Regions from separate parts of the Homo sapiens genome. Here region 2 is linked to region 1. The links come from fine-mapping of genetic effects on gene expression. Tissue or cell type: whole blood. Region 1 holds a variant in brackets; the other region holds the start of a gene. All regions are shown on one strand. Distances are between the middles of the regions.

What was found. PIP is the estimated chance that this variant, and not a neighbour inherited with it, causes the effect.
Region 2: it holds the start of PTPA, and the variant in region 1 is fine-mapped to the expression of PTPA in whole blood (TOPMed, PIP above 0.99).

What each region holds. Positions count from the first base shown.
Region 1 is chr9:129,135,613-129,143,658 of GRCh38, reverse strand. PTPA (protein phosphatase 2 phosphatase activator) reads right to left here. Exons shown (of 10, transcript NM_178000.3): 7 at 7,064-7,188; 8 at 5,967-6,067; 9 at 1,107-1,214. Among named protein-coding and RNA genes, the nearest start is that of PTPA, 28 kb to the right of the region's middle. RefSeq lists enhancers at 1-109, 1-139, 2,209-2,258, 2,656-3,285, 3,366-3,525 and 4 more and a silencer at 2,716-2,765. The variant G/A (reference allele first, on the strand shown) is at 4,213.
Region 2 is chr9:129,107,085-129,115,135 of GRCh38, reverse strand. It overlaps PTPA (protein phosphatase 2 phosphatase activator), which reads right to left and starts at 3,721. Exons shown (of 10, transcript NM_178000.3): 1 at 3,505-3,721. The coding sequence starts at 3,535. It overlaps CRAT (carnitine O-acetyltransferase), which reads left to right and starts at 4,343. Exons shown (of 14, transcript NM_000755.5): 1 at 4,343-4,653; 2 at 7,059-7,322. The coding sequence starts at 4,627. RefSeq lists silencers at 3,408-3,457, 4,148-4,587 and enhancers at 2,985-3,525, 3,458-3,737.

The DNA.
Region 1 (8,046 bases):
GGGGCGGAAGGGAGTGAGGGCCCGGTCTGTTCAGTTCAAGCCTCATTAACCCCTTCAGGACCAAGTGCAGGGAGCCAAGCCAACTGGAAGCATCTGTGCTCCCCCACCCCGCTGGCCTCTGGCACCCTTCCCCGTTGTCCCGCCTCTGCTGATGGGATCCAGGAAGCTCTGGGTCCAATGAAGACCTGGAGCAGCCCCTTCCCAGAAGAGAAGGCCGGCCAGGAGTCAAGAGATGGTGCCCACAGTACAGTGTCTGAGGCCATGAACTAGTCACAAGGGCCAGCCTGAGAACAGAAAGAAGGGACTTTAAGGACCCATCACTCCAGGTGTGGAACTTCACATCCAGCCCTTCCCTGGCCAAGGTCAAGCAGTTCTAGAATTAGTCTTCCCAGGAAGTGGGAGGAGCTAGCAGAAGGGACAGAGTAGAAATAAAATGTCTCCTCCCCACTTGGAAGAGAGAAAAGGCCACCTCCTTGGCTGGGAGAACAGTGCCAAGAGGGCAGGAGACACCCTCGGCTGCCTGCCAGCAGGGGGAGCTCCAGGAAGCCTCAGCTCTCCTCTCCTCAGCATCTGATTTGAGAGCAGGGAAAACCATTTGCATCAAAATCCCTGAAGCGGTCCATAAAAATGCCAATTCTCGGCCTACCCTCAGACCTCCCACCACTCAGTGATCATACACACTAACATTTGAAGGCAGCACTTTGGAGATGCCTCCAAAGGGTAAGACCCTTCCCAGGTATGCCATGGGAGAGCCAGACTCAGACTGCCCGAGCTTTGAGGAGCCTTTGGCCACTTGATAAAGGAGAAGGGAGGCCCCCATCGCCCCCACTCCCCATGCAGCAGGTCCTTGCCTCAGCCTCCAAGCTCATCAGGACAGAGCTGGACTGCAGCTTTTCGGGGCTGGGGTGGCTGGTGCTTCTCTGACTGCCCATGCCCCAGATGGGAGATTCCGAGGCCCCAAGTGTCAGAGGGGCTGGCCTAAGATTCAGAGCAAAACAGTGGGGTAGGAGGAAGCAGGAGCCCCAGGTTCCACATCTTTTGCTTTGTCCCCAGCCCAGGACCAAGTGCGGCAGCAGGGACGGGCACACTGGCCAGCCCCCACTCACCTCGGCCTTATACATGCGGATGAGACCCTGGTTCACTTTGGACCAGGAAGGGACGGCGCTGATGTTCCACAGCTGGTTGGAGTGCTCTGCAAATGGGCCAGTCTTCATCTGAAAAAGAGAAGCCACAAGCTGAAGAGACAGGTTCTGGCTGGGAGCTCATCCCTCCTCCCCTGCAGCAAAGTCACACCCATGCATGCACACACACACACACACAAACGCACACGCACACAATGCACGCGCAGACACTTGGGGACCAAGCTATAGCATCTGCCTGAGGGGCAAACATACAAACAGGCACATGCAAGTGCCAGAGACAAGGTTCCCCTTTGGCCCTCAAGGCCTGCTAGGAAAATATAACATTCCTTGCCCACCTACCCGCAGTCACCCCTCTTTCTCCCACAGCCAAAAAAAGGGGGCCTGATTCCTATCGCCCACCAAATCCAGCAGCCTCAGGAAGATAAGATCTCCACCTGAGCTTCTGGTGTCGTTCCCACCGACTCCCCAGGAGCCTCAGAGCGCCTCTCCAGCACAGGGATTCACTTGGGTTCAGATAAATAGCAGCAGCAGCTAGGCCCCACCCCTCCAGGCCCACCCCCTCTCCCCCAGGCCCCCCCACAGGACACGTGGTCTGCACCTGCCACCAGCAGAGCTAGAAGAGATGAGGAAAGGGTCAATTTGCAAGAGGACCAAGGTGGGTATGACCAAACCCAGGTATCCGACAGCCCTCTGCCTGCCATGCAGGCAGGGAAGAGAGGGCCGATGGGAGGCAGGGGTGCCTGAAGCAGCAGCCAGCCTGGCCTGGCCAGGAGGTGGGGAAGGGGTGGCCGCCACAGCAGCTGAAAGAGGCAGGCACAAGGACGGCTCCATTCCTGGTCCTCCCTCTTGCCAAAGAGTCTGACCCTCCAGGACGGAAGAGAAAGATTCTGCAGCCAGCATGAAGTTCCCATGACGTCAGAAACCACAGAGGGACGCCTGTGTGCCTGAGCATATCCCCCTGACACCGCAAGTCCAGCACATTTGTATTTATTAACCAAGCAGTTCATAATTCCCCTCGACACAGCCCCCCAGCTCATAGGCAGCATTTACAGGGGAACAGGGCTCTGTACCCCAGACCCATGCTGCAGAAGGAAGACTCTGCAAAGAGGCTGAATCTGGCAAAGAAACAGAGACTTGGAAGGTTCTAGAAACATGCGGGTGTCAGGGGAGACTGGGTTATTTTTTGAAGGAGAAAAGATAAGCCAGAAACGCTCTCCAAAAAGGGGCATCAGTTCACCACAAGAGCCCTCAGGAGCCCCCACTCTTGAGCCATGGGCTGCCACCTGGTGACCCACTCCTGGCAGGCCTCTTACTTCTCTAGTAAGGGCAACTGTGACAAAACTTTTAAGATTTAAGTCAAAAAAAACCTGTCATTTTATCCCCCTCATTTCCCTCCCCTGGCCCAGGTTCCCAAAAAGCCCATCCAAACACCCATGTTCAGGAGCAAGGACAACAGGCTCCTCCCTCCCCTCCTCTTCTCTCCCAGGCTCCACCACAGCCAGGCAAGAGCCCGAGGCACCCAACAGAGACAAAGCCCACTCTGGTCCCTGGGGGCCTTGTCTTGGACCACTCGCTTCACTCAGAATCACCCCAGGCTCTCTCCTCCAGGAGGGCAGCCAGGCACCCCGAGCCTACAGGGGCCTCACCTCTGGGGAGCTTTGTTTCAACTGCCCTGCTCAACCACACTCCACCCCCAGCCCCTCCCCCACCTCCCCACCCTACCCCACCCCTTCCCCAGTCTGCAGGCTCCAGCCCTGTGCACACTTCCAGGCCCAGGAAAGCTCAGGGAGCATGGAGCTGTGTAACCAGTTTCACTCTCTGGACAGGGCCCTCTGAGCAAGCAACCAGGAGGCACCCTGTCGGCTTTGTCGGCTTTGTCTGCCAGGGGCCTGCCCGGCAAGGGCTCCGAGGCAAAGGCAGGCAGATGGGCACTGGAAGACAAGAGCCCCTGCCTCCTGGCCAGCCTCGCCTACCAGGGCCAAAGAACAGATCCTCAAAAGGCCTCTGGCAGAGCCAGGGCTAGGCCCATGTCCTGGAGCTCCAGTGGCCCTGGGCCCCTACACACAGAAAGGCCAGAGAGGTAGTTTCTTTGGAGGGGCTGCAGGCTGCCCCCAGGCCTTCAGTACCCCAGGGTCTCCCTAAGTCCTTCAGGGAGGTTACAGTCCTTTGCCTGTAACTCTGGCAAAGGAAAACAGACGAGTGGGAGAAAAAGGAATCGGGGCTGGAAGACAAAGAAAAAATTAGCTCATTCTAGCCACAAAGGGAGAAGAGAAAGAACCAGAATGAGCGAGCGAGCTGCAGCCCGCAGTGACCCCAGGGGAATCGTGTGAGTCAGAGCAGCCATATTGAGCAGGAAATTACTCACAGACGCTGCGTTCCTGCCTCTCCACTCCCCAGAGAATCGGCCTTTTGTAAATGGCTCCTCTGTCAGTAACTGGGGGGATGGGCGGGGGTGGGGAGGCTCTGCACAGCGCCTTCCTGTCAGCTCCTTCCCTTCCAGCTGAAATCTGATCCCTCCCTTCCCAAAACTCCAAATTTAGAAGCCAGATTGAAACTGAAATTCTTTTCCTGCCTGCCCTGGGCTCTTAAAGGCGCCAGGGCTGCATTTACAGAGGCTGTAGAGGCCCTGCAAGGTGGGGTCCCTCACCTAGGATGCCCACGGGTATCAGGGCAGTCTTGGCATGAGACCCTGAAAGGGCTGCCTGATTCCACTCCCAAGTTCTCGGTGTTTTAGTTAATCTCCCAGTTAAAAGAGCACCATGGTGAATCCAGGGTCTCCAGAGGAAACACTGCCTCCTTCCCAAGCAAGGCGTACAGAACTCCATGCAAGCCTCCAGGTCCCCAGTGAGCTAGGCCAGGCCACTCACCAACTAGGGACTGCAAAATGCTGCTCACTGCTCCGAGGTGGAAGAGGGTGGGCGCTCTGGAGAACCAACACAACGTGTGCTGCAACCAGCGGCCACGTGGCAAGATGGGCCCTTGCTGCAGCCACCCCGGCTCCTGGGCACACTCCTCCTAGGGTCTACTGTTGAACACCATGCCCAAGAGCCTAGACCCAAAGTGAAAACCC[G/A]GACCTGTGGAGAAGGTGCGGAACAGCCAACAACTCTAGGCACGCCCTCCCCTCCCTGTTCCTTCTGCTGCCTCAAATAAATGTCACCAAACCCTCTCCAAGTTCAGTGTGCCTCTCCTGCCACCTAGTGGCTACTTTGAGATTTCCTCTACTGGAGGAACTGGGTCCCAAACTTTGGAAAAGCTTTTGGGGTGTTTATACCAACAAAATCAACCAACCAACTAAAGACAAAATTTTACCATGGAATCAATTCCCAAAATCCTGGAGGCCAGGCCTGGCATGCCTCCTAGTTAGAATACCGACAGGGACCCAGAGGCCTGGCCAGCCGCCGGGGGAGCCCAAACAGCTCAGCCTTTCAGCCACACCCAAGAACTCAGTGTGGCATCTGCACCCTTCTTCCCACCCTGCTCCTCCAGCTTATCCTGAGGTCCCCCAGGGCTCCGCAGACCCCCACATTCCACTCCACAGAGAGCAGCGCGTGACTGGCTTTCAAGGCAGTGAGCCAGGCTGCCCCCAAGTCCTCCCGACCTTGGGCCTGCCACACTGCTGAGGGCAGCAGATCTCCGGGAATGAAGTGGTGGCCGCCCAGCCGTCAGTCCCGGCTCCATTTGCTGACTTGGAAAAAATGTGTCATTCCCCTCTGGCCTCTGGAGTTTGGCAGAAGCCTGAGCCGAATGTTGACCAGGAAGAGCCTGGAGCCAAGGCTGCTGGTTATAACCCAGCTTTCTCCACCTCGTCGGGGGCTCAGAATACACAGCCCGGACGGAGAGCAGCCCCCGTGGCCAGCATCCACAGGCCTGCTAGGAACCTCACTGAGGCAGCAGACATCCGTGCTGGTGTCGGGAAAGGGACTGAGGAGGGATAGAACTCTCAAACCCTCTCCAGATAGCTGAGCGAGGGCGCCCTTTGGAAACTGGGGCATGGGGATGGCAGAGAGGATGAGAAGTCCTAACACCTCCCTCAAGAGAGGTCCAGAGAGCAGAGGGTCCCCAGCTTTCCTGTGCAGTCGCCTGGCACGTGTGTTTAGATGCAGGTTCCTGGCTCTTGTCCCCTAAGATTCTGATGCAATAAGCTGGGATGGAGGGCCCAGGAATGTGCGTTTTAACAAACACACTAGGAGATCTCGCACAAGTGGTCCAGGGCCCACTGCAAGGAATCCTGCCTTGGTGAGACAATAACTTCCAGTTCCAGAACCCAGCCGTGGGGCTGGCTATCCAGTGACTGCCACCACAGGCCAGGCCTGCGCACTCCCACTCCAGCACTTTGCTCGGGCCCACGTCCTCAGGCACTGACAGAGACGTGTCCCTTCGACAGAAAAGCTGTCTGCACCAGAAGTTCGCTCCATCTCCTCTGGTGGTTTCATTTTACACATCCACAGCACATGGTTCTACAGACCCTTGTGGGGCCCCACCGAAAGATGCTGACCCTCCCCCACAAACCTCCGCCCGCCCCGACCCTTTCAGACCTGCTGCAGCAGTCACCAAGGCCAGTTAGTGACCAAGTCTTAGACCCTCATCTCAAGACTCCTGTGGTGTTCAGGAGAAACTGAAGGAGAACTGGGCGGAGGACCTGACAGTCAGCAGCGGCTCTTTCGGAAGAGGCCCAGTGGTGCTTCCTTTTCAATAACCCGCTCCGGCCGGCCCTGCCATTTTGGGCAGCAGCTCTGGCTCTTCTGATCCACTGTAAGGCCACCAGCCTTGGTTCATCTGAGCCTGGAGGCAGCCATGGGCTTCTCTCTCACCCCTCCTCCTCACCTCGGTAATAAACAGGATACACTCCAGGAACATGTAGTCCTTGTGGTTCTCATTCACGGCCTTCTCATCCACAAAGTGTCTGGGCTCCAGGTATGGGTGGTCTGGGAAAAGGAATGGGCCCCAGCATTCAGAACCAGGCCCCACGACTACCTGGGCAACCCGGCCCAGCAGTCACACCCCCCCAGGGGCCTCAGTCCTGCCCGTGGTGCCCTCAACACCTCACCTTGAAGGAGCAATAAGTAACTCTGGGTTTGTGTATTCTAATGTGCTAAGCTCTAGCTGCATGGCGTTGGACGCATGACTTCAGCCTGCCAAGGTTCAGTTTCCTCACCTGGACACTGGGGACAAGAAGAGCACCTCCTCCTAGGGGCCATGACAACAATTACCACACCTACAGCACTCAGTATGGTGCCTGGTGCAGGTGCCAGTCAGCAGAGCCGGCTTCATGCTGGCAGACCCTTCGCAGTGTCACTGAGAAGATTCGGGGAGGCAATGCACCCGAGGCCACAACTAATGGTCATTTATGAATATCAGTCTGTAGGCAGTTCATTCTTCATCAAAATAGAGATGATCACCTACGCCCATCCTGAAAACTAGCTTCAAGAGTTGGGGAGTCACCAGAGCAGGCCTCTCTGAGCCCCACAGGAAGCAGGCCCACCACCCAGCACTTGGCGGCTGCTCCCTAACGGGCCCCTTTGCACACAGCTCGATAATAACAGTGGATGACACTGGTCACCAAATCAAAAGGGTCCCTCATTTTCAACATAAAACCCCACAGCTGCTGCCAGGAGCTGGGGCGCATTTCACACCAGTCCATTATGCACCAGGCGTGCGCCCTTGCTCCAGCCCATGTCACTTCCCATTATCTTGGTGGCGCTTGGCCTCCGCCTCCTCCAGCCCACCACACGGGCTCTCACAGCAGAAGGTCGACAGTAAACAGCCTCCCTCAATAGCTGGTCTAATGCCCTGCTTTCCAAGCTGTCACTGTCTGCCCTGGGCAGGAAGAAGGGAAGGAGGGAGCGCAGGAGGGGCAGGGGAGGGCCACAGAACGCAGCCTTGGTTGGGGGTGGAGGGATAGGCACCTCCCGCTCTAGTACCTATCAGCTGCGAACTGCCCCAGATGAAGGGCAGAAACTGGAAGTCATCCAGACCCCACACTCCCTGGCTGCCGGCTGGCTCCATCCTGTATGTTTTCTGGAGTTTCCGCATAACCTCAAGGTACCTGCACAGGAGGACAGGGAAAGGGAAGGTAGCAAAAAGTAAAAAGACAGTCTCACCCTTTCGGCCACTGGGAGCACAAGGAGACCCCAAAATAACCACTGAAGAGTGTTAACTGGTCTCAATTTCAATAATGTAGCTTTATTTCCCCCAACAAACACTCAGCCATCTTTTGGCTCAGGAAAGGCATAAAAATCACTGATTAAGGGCCCGGGCACGGTGGCTCACGCCTGTAATCCCAGCACTTTGGGAGGCCGAGGCAGGCGGATCACAAGGTCAGGAGATCGAGACCATCCTGGCCAACACGGTGAAACCCCGTCTCTACTAAAAATCCAAAAAATCAGCCAGGTGTGGTGGTGGGCGCCTGTGGTCCCAGCTACTCTGGAGGCTGAGGCAGGAGAATGGCATGAACCCAGGAGGCAGAGCTTGCAGTGAGCCGAGATCTCTCCACTGCACTCCAGCCTGGGCGACAGAGCAAGACCCTGTCTCAAAAAAAATAAACAAATAAATAAATAAAAAATCACTGATTAGGAAGGTGGGTTTTGGTGCCATCAACTCCTGACAACTTGTAAAACCCTGGGCAGGGCCTCAGCCTCTCCAGCCTCAGTTGGCCTGTCTGAAAGCTAACACAAGTCCCAGCAGGTTATCTCCTAGGTTCTTCTGGTTCCAACCTTCTATATTATCAGAGGCTGCATATCAACCACCTGTGAAGCATCGAGCACTGCTCCTGGGCTCCGTCACAGGCCTGCTGCAGCAGCACTGCTAGACTGGGGCCCGCAATGGGGATTTTAAGAGCTCTGGGTAACTGATCCACATCAGTGCTGCCCAGCGACTGGCTTGGGTGGTGTGGGGCAGCAGGTCA
Region 2 (8,051 bases), 29 kb after region 1:
CCTTTTATATGTGTGAGATCACCATTCTCTGCAAAGGGACAGCTCTCCTCGGAGGTTGCACTGAGCCAAGATCATGCTACTGCACTCCAGCCTGGGTGACAGAGTGAGACTCTGTCTCAAAAAATAAAAATAAAAAAAGGGATGGCACTCCTGACATTATTTAACCGGGATATTTCACAGGAAGAGAGCCTTCAGGCCAGTCCATGTTTGGGAAAAGGCTACCTTACCAGGAAGCACTATAACAAATTACTGATGAAACACACACAAGTTGCCAGAACACACAATCCCAAATCAAAGAAACAAGCCTTCAAAGGCAGGATGGTGATAAATGAGGTCACGCCCACAGTCTCTCCAGCCTCAGGTTATAGAGACATAGGTTCCAAGGGACAGTGGATTCCCAACAACCTCACAGTATAAAATCAACATTCAGAATTTTAGAAATGTTCCTTCCTAAGCCCCCCAACAAAGACTATAATATATAGCATTATCATTGGCCATTTGAAACTCGTCTACATGTTCAACCTGTACAACTTTGAAACTTTGAAAAAGATAAGGGCAATCAGCATTTACTGATCGCCTACTATGTCCCATGCTTTGCACACATCTTATAAAACACATACTACAATTCTATGAAGAAAGTATAGTAGCCTATAGTTATTTTAAGAAATAACTGAGGCTTTTTCTCAGGGAAAAAAAAAGAAATTTTAAAAAAGAGAGAAGTAACTGAGGCTCACAGAGCTGTGACTTGCCAGGCAGAGCCAGATATGTATGACTCCAAAATCCAAAGTTTTCATCATTACATTAAGAACTTCTCGCCGGGCGCGGTGGCTCACGCCTGTAATCCCAGCACTCTGGGTGGCCAAGGCGGGTGAATTACTTGAGGCCAGGAGTTCGAGACCAGCCTGGCCCACACGGCGAAATCCCATCTCTACTAAAAATACAAAAAATTAGCCCGGCACAGTGGTGGGCGCCTCAGCAACTCGGGAGGCTGAGGCACGAGAATCGCATGAACTCAGGAGGCGGAGGTTGCAGTGAGCTGAGATTGCACCACTGCACCCTGGCCTGGGAGACAAAGTGAAACTCTGTCTCAAAAAAAAACTAAAAAGAAGAAGTTCTTTCCAGCTGTTCCCAAAAGTTCTGTTTCAAATTTCAAAAAAGGACCACAACCAGGGACCTGGCTGTTTCCAGCCACGGATAACCTCCCTGAGCACAGCTCTCTTTCAGGGCACAGGTTCTCTCTCCTCCCACTCCCCACCCCCACTCATCTTCAGGGACACATTCATCTCACTGATAACAGTGGTTGCCTTATATCTCCTATCTCCTGATGTCCTTACCAGAACTTTTTCTTTTTTGAGATGGAGTCTAGCTCTCTCGCCCAGGCTGGGGTGCAGTGGCTGGAGTGCAGTGGAGCAATCTCGGCTCACTGCAACCTCCGCCTCCTGGGTTCAAGTGATTCTCCTGCCTCAGCCTCCCGAGTAGCTGCGATTACAGACGTGTGCCACCACACCCAGCTAATTTTTGTATTTTGAATACAGACGGGGTTTTGCCATGTTGGCCATGGCTGGTCTCGAACTCCTGACCTCAAGTGATCCGCCTGTGTCGGCCTCCCAAAGTGCTGGGATTACAGGTGTGAGCCACTGTGCCCGGAGTCATCACCAGAACTTCTAAGGCTAGCTTGTTCAACCCACAGCCCAGGACAGCTTTGAATGTAGCCGGACACAAATTTGTAAACTTTCTTAAAACATAGGCCAGGCACGGTGGCTCATGCCTGTAATCCCAGCACTTTGGAAGGCCGAGGCAGGAGGATCACGAGGTCAGGAGTTCGAGACCAGCCTGGCCAATATGGTGAAACCCTGTCCCTATTAAAAATACAAAAATTAGCCAGGCATGGTGGCGCACCTGTAGTCCCAGCTACTCAGGAGGCTGAGGCAGGAGAATCGCTTGAACCCGGGAGGCAGAGGGTGCAGTCAGCCGAGACCATGCCACTGCACTTCAGCCTGGGGGACAGAGTGAGACACTGTCTCAAAAAAAAGAAACACAAAACCATTATGAGATTTTTTTTTTTGCGACTTTTTTTTTAGCTCATCAGCCATCGTTAGTGTTAGTGTATTTTATGTGTGACCCAAGACAATTCTGCTTCCAATGTGGCTTAGAGAAGCCAAAAGAGTGGACACCCCGGTTTTTTTTTTGGGGGGTGACGGAGTTTCACTCTTGTTGTCCAGGCTGGAGTGCAATGCCGCGATCTCAGCTCACCGCAACCTCTGCTTCCCAGGTTCAAGCGATTCTCCTGCCTCATCCTCCCTAGTAGTTGGGATTACGGGCGTGTGTCACCACGCCCGGCTAATTTTGTATTTTTAGAAGAGACGGAGTTTCTCCATGTTGGTCAGGCTGGTCTCGAACTCCCGACCTCAGGTGATCAGCCCGCCTCGGCCTCCCAAAGTGCTGGGATTACGGGCATGAGCCACCGCGCCTGGCCTGGACATCCTTGTTCTAAGGGCACACACCCAGAGGTTTTGTACAAAATAAATGTCTGGTTTTGAATGTCCTAAGAAACGGAACCCAGCTCTTTGTTCACCTCTTTTGTGGGGCATGGAGGGGATGCCTTTTCTGATTTTCAACATTTCTCCCTCCTGAGACCTTCCCAGGGACCCCAACATTGGAGACAGGATAGCAAGAATATCAAATGCTTTCAAAACATTAGCTGTGTTTGGTCGGCCAACCTATTTGCCTCTGTCGGGAATGTAAAAGTTATCTATGGCCAGTCCTTCTTAGTTCAAGGTAGGTCGGCAAACAGCCTTCTCCTTCTGCACAAAAAGGGTCTCTAAGATCCTTCCGTAGCACCTCCATCCCAGTTATTTAAGATGAACTAAAAAGAGGCTACAAGGTAAATAAGAGTTACCGAAGGAGATGCCGGAGAGACTAACCTCCTTGCACAACCAGCCTTTTAAAATTAGGGATTTAGACACCACGGGCAGTTTCCCTCAATAAATTCTCAGGCACTGGAACCAGAGAGTAGGAGGATGAGGGGTGAGCAGGACGCGGAGGCCGAAACTGGAGGCGAGGCGGGCGCAGGCCCACGGAGCACCACCCCATCCCCTAAGCAGCGACTAATAAAGACGGCAGCCTCCGGAATCACTTTCGCCCCCCTCCCTGGCAGCTTCCCCACCGAGTCAGCAGCTTACTTAAGCACGCGCTGCCCAGAGATGCAAAAGGCCCCCTTATGACCACGGCGCTGCCCACCCAGCATTCGGGCAGCCTGGACTCCCACAAAACCCAGAGTTGCGCCCCAATCACCACCCCTTTGCAGCCCCTGGTTCCCTCCCCAGCGGCGCCCCACCACCCACCTCTCCCCTAAGGCCATTCAACTCAGTCCCTCCTCGGGGCCCCTCAGCTTTTGCCCCTCCAGTTCCTCCGTGTCATGACTCTCGCCCTCCTGAGCCTCCCACACCTGGCACCGCCCCCACCCTACCCGACCCCGGCCCGGCCTGGCCCCGCCGGCCTTACCTGGCGGCGGCTGCCGCTCGCCCTCAGCCATCTTGCTCCGGCCAGGAGCCGACCCGGATGCTTGCAGTCCCCTCTCGCCTTTCACTCTTGCACCCACCCTTCCTCTCCCCGGCTCCACCAAAGGCTCCGAGCTTCCTGAAGACAAGTGAGCGCCGGCCGGCTATAACCGAAAACCGAGAGTTAAAGTCACCACAGCGAAGACGGCCGCCATGTCGGTGCGGGGCGCTCAGGGAGCAAGCCTATTAACGGCCGGCGCGCGGCGGACGCGCGGAACCGGGCGACGGCCATGTCAGTGCGGGGCGCGCGGGGCGCATGCGCGCCAACGGCCGCCAAGCGCTAGGACCGCTCACGGCCGCCCGAACGTCGGGCGCCGCGACTGCCACGATTGTGCGGGGCGTCAAGTTTGGGTTGTGCTCAGCCATGTTTTTCCGGGACAGTCTCCTGTCCCGGAGTACCACCTGTCATCTTTGTGGGTGGTACTGACCCTAACCCAAGGAATATTAGAGGACATTCCCCGGTCAACATGGTTGTGTTTTCCTATCACTCTAAGAGTTAGGCTCAAGGACACCAGACGGAGTTGGAAAGGTGCACACCACTACCTCCAACAGCTTAGAAGACATGTGGGGACAGGGGAGAGACAGCTGGACGGTGACCTCCTCCTTCCTCCTCCACAGGTCTCAATGACTCGCCCTCGGCCCTGCCCCTCTGTCCCCGCCCGCCGTGGTCCCGCCCCCGACTCGCAGCCAGCCTACTGCGACCCGCTACCGGGCGACGCCCCGCCCCTCCGTCCCCGCCCCTCCTGTCCCTCCTCAAGGAGACTCCGCCCCATCGATGCCCCGTCCCCGCCCCACAGCCAACCTCCCGGGCACCGTTGCCCGCCCGGGGCCCGCTACCGGCCCAGGCCCCGCCTCGCGAGTCCTCCTCCCCGGGTGCCTTCCCGCAGCCCGCTCGGCCCAGAGGGTGGGCGCGGGGCTGCCTCTACCGGCTGGCGGCTGTAACTCAGCGACCTTGGCCCGAAGGCTCTAGCAAGGACCCACCGACCCCAGCCGCGGCGGCGGCGGCGCGGACTTTGCCCGGTGTGTGGGGCGGAGCGGACTGCGTGTCCGCGGACGGGCAGCGAAGATGTTAGCCTTCGCTGCCAGGACCGTGGTGAGTGCGGCGGATCCCGGGCCTGAGGGCCCTGGACGGCCTGGGCGGGCCGTGCGGTTGCGTCCGGGAACGGAGACCGCGTCCTGCGGCCGCTGTTCGACCCGGCCTCCAGCTGATGGGGTGGGGTCAGGCGGGCGTCCCAGGTTTGGCAGAGCAGGAGATTGGGGCGCAAGGTCAGAAGCGGGATTAAACCCACGTCCTGGAGCATTCAGTTCCAACGACCCAGGAAAGACAAGGGGGACCCCGGCTTCAGTTAGCACCCCCACCCTTAGACCCAGAGACAGGCCGGTAGGGGAGAGAGACCAGGAGCATCCAGACCCTAGCTCACTCTCCCAGTTATTCTCCGATTGACACACCCGTCGCACGCTTAGGCCAGAGCCACTCCTCCGACCCTGTCCAGTTGGTCACACTCCTTTGGTTTATCAGACGGTCCCTGGGGAATTGTGTGTGGCCAGAGAAACACGCGGAGGCATCAAGCTAGAAAGGCCTCAGAACTGGCAGGTGGCAGCCCCATGGTCTCCCTCCCCTCCAGCCCCCTTCCCCACCCTGGCTGTATCCTTCCCTCCAGCCCCCTTCCCCACCCTGGCTATATCCTCCCCTCTAGCCCCCTTCCCCACCCTGGCTATATCTACCCCTCAGTCCTCCCCGGTGAGCAGCCCGGATGCTAGCCTAATTTCAGTCCCTTCCGTCCCTGATCCAAGCATATGTTGCTGGTGTCTCACTCTGTCTCAGACACACACTACGGGGCCAGAGGGCGGAGGGTGCATCCAGGCTCAGGCCTAGAGGCTCTTTTAGGTGTTGCAACACCCTGAGCCTCCACCGCACCCTTGTCACTGTCTCCCAAGCTGCATCCATCCCACAAACAGCCTCTAGATCATCCTCCAGGACCATCCGACTGGACTGGTTACCTTCCTGCAGGGAAACTGAGGCAAGGAGGGACTTGCCCAGAGTCCCCTGGACCTGCTCATTCAAATCCAGCCCAATCCCAGTGTCCTTTGGTTTATTTTTCATACCAAAAGTCCTCCGCTCTTGGACCCTAGCTGAATGAGCCACAGCTCAGGAAAAAATGAGTGTTCGTAGAGGGATGGCTCAGATGGGTCCCAGGAGTCCTGGAGAGAAACAGGAAATAGGCAGGGCTTCTGGCTGTCCCATCCACTGATGGCCTTTTCCTGGTGTCTGCTCCCTTGCACCAACCCTAATTTCAGGACCGATCCCAGGGCTGTGGTGTAACCTCAGCGGCCAGGCAGTCTCTGTCCTCCAGCCAAGTTTTCCCTCATCAAAACGATCTTCGCAGATTCTGACAGGTGGATTTTTTATTACCTTTTGTCCTGACTCCCTGGCACTGAGCCCATGCAGAGAAGAAAGGAAAGAACTTTCCAGGTTCCCTTCTACTGGAATGCCCCCCCACTAGCCCTCTCACCTGCTCCCCATTCCTCTACTTCTGGGAGCTCGGGAGGGTGGAGCAGCTTCTAGAGTCCAGGAGCTTCCCCTGCCACTGCCACAACCCCCGATTCCACCACAGCCATCGCCACTGCCACCTGCCTCCCGCTGAATCTTGGCTCTTGTCTTCTCTTTCCAGCCCAGGCAAGTGGCTGCCTCTGGCTAGGTTCTGCTCACTCACTTTGTAGCACAGTTAGGCTTAGAGATCCAGCCAAGGCAGACAGACAGGGCCCAGAACCTCAGTCCTGCCATGGAGGAGGACGGGCAGCAGAGAGAGAAGGTATGGAACAGAGCTCCTGCCACTCGCCTGCCCACTGCAAGAGCAGCCTCGGGCCCTCCTGTCTCTGCCCACTCCAGGGCCTCCTGGACTTTCTCTTTCTCTCTCTGCCGCCTCTCACCCTCCATGCCAGGCCACCCGGCTCTCTCGCCACAGCACTGCCCTCACCCCACCCCTGCCCCATCTCAAAGGCAGGAGGAAGCCCAAGGCCCCTCACCCGAAGGTGCTGCCATTGTCTGGCTCTCTGTGATTCTCTCTTCTTCCCTTCTGTTTCTCAACCTGGAAAGGGTGGGAGAAAAGGACGTGGGGACCTCCAAGAGGGACAGTCACCACTCTGCTGGCTGGCTCCTCTTCCAGGGTGAGAAAGGAGGGGCCTGTGCAACCCAACAGGTGGGCGGTCCCCCTCACCTCTGCCACCCCAAAGGTGCCGTTCATCCTGACTTGGTTCCCCTGAGCCTTGCTAAGAACCATGGCCACACCCCACCCTCCCCCATCCCTACCTGCATCTCCAGGCCCCAGAGAGGCGGGGACACCTAGAGCTCTAGGGCTGGGAGGCCAGGGCCAGCCCCACCCAAGAGGCCGTCTCTGCCCCCAGGGATGGGCACTTAAGTGCCCAGGACTACAGCTTTGGGGCTGCCAGGGCTCCAGAGCCGGGGAGGGAATGAACAGGATGTTCTGCTACCTGCAGGTGAAGCCTCTGGGCTTCCTGAAGCCCTTCTCCTTGATGAAGGCTTCCAGCCGCTTCAAGGCACACCAGGATGCACTGCCACGGCTGCCCGTGCCCCCTCTCCAGCAGTCCCTGGACCACTACCTGAAGGCGCTGCAGCCCATCGTGAGTGAGGAGGAGTGGGCCCACACCAAGCAGCTGGTGGATGAGTTTCAGGCCTCAGGAGGTGTAGGGGAGCGCCTGCAGAAGGGGCTGGAGCGTCGGGCCAGGAAGACGGAGAACTGGGTGAGTGAGGGCATCCTCACTGTGACCTGCTGCTGGCTGCACATGCACAGTTCTCCAGTGCCCACTGCTCTGGCACGGCCGTTCGTTTGCTGCCCAGAGTTTCGTGAGCACATACTCTGTGTCTGGCACTTGGCAGGGTGCTGGGTGATCAAGAAGGACACAGTCACCAGCTCCTTGGAGCTAACATTCAAGTAGGGAGGAGAGAAAGGTAATGAACAGGATACAGGTTGTGGACAAGGTTTCATGTTCCAGGACAGAGGCAGGAGTGGGGTGCACGGCAGGTACAACCAGATAGAAGATGCCCTTGTGCTTGGTGGGACAGCCTCAGGCAGGGGATATGTGTCACTCAGTGACCGATCGCCCAGGTTCTGTATCTGATCTATGACACAGGTGTACCCAGTTTGGCAAATATGTCTACACCAATGTTTGGTGTGCTTTTCTATTTGCATCTCATACTTCAATACACAGATTTAAAAAGTGGCAGCTGGATGCAGTGACTCACACCTATAATCCCAGCACTTTGGGAGTCCAAGGCGGGCAGATCACAAGGTCAGGAGTTCGGGACCAGCCTGGCCAACATGATGAAACCCTGTCTCTACTAAAAATACAAAAATTAGCCAGGCGTAGTGGCACGCACCTGTAATCCCAGATACTGGGGAGGCTGAGGCAGGAGAATTGCTTGAACCTGGCAGGTGGAGGTTGCAGTGAGCCAAGATTGTGCCACTGCAC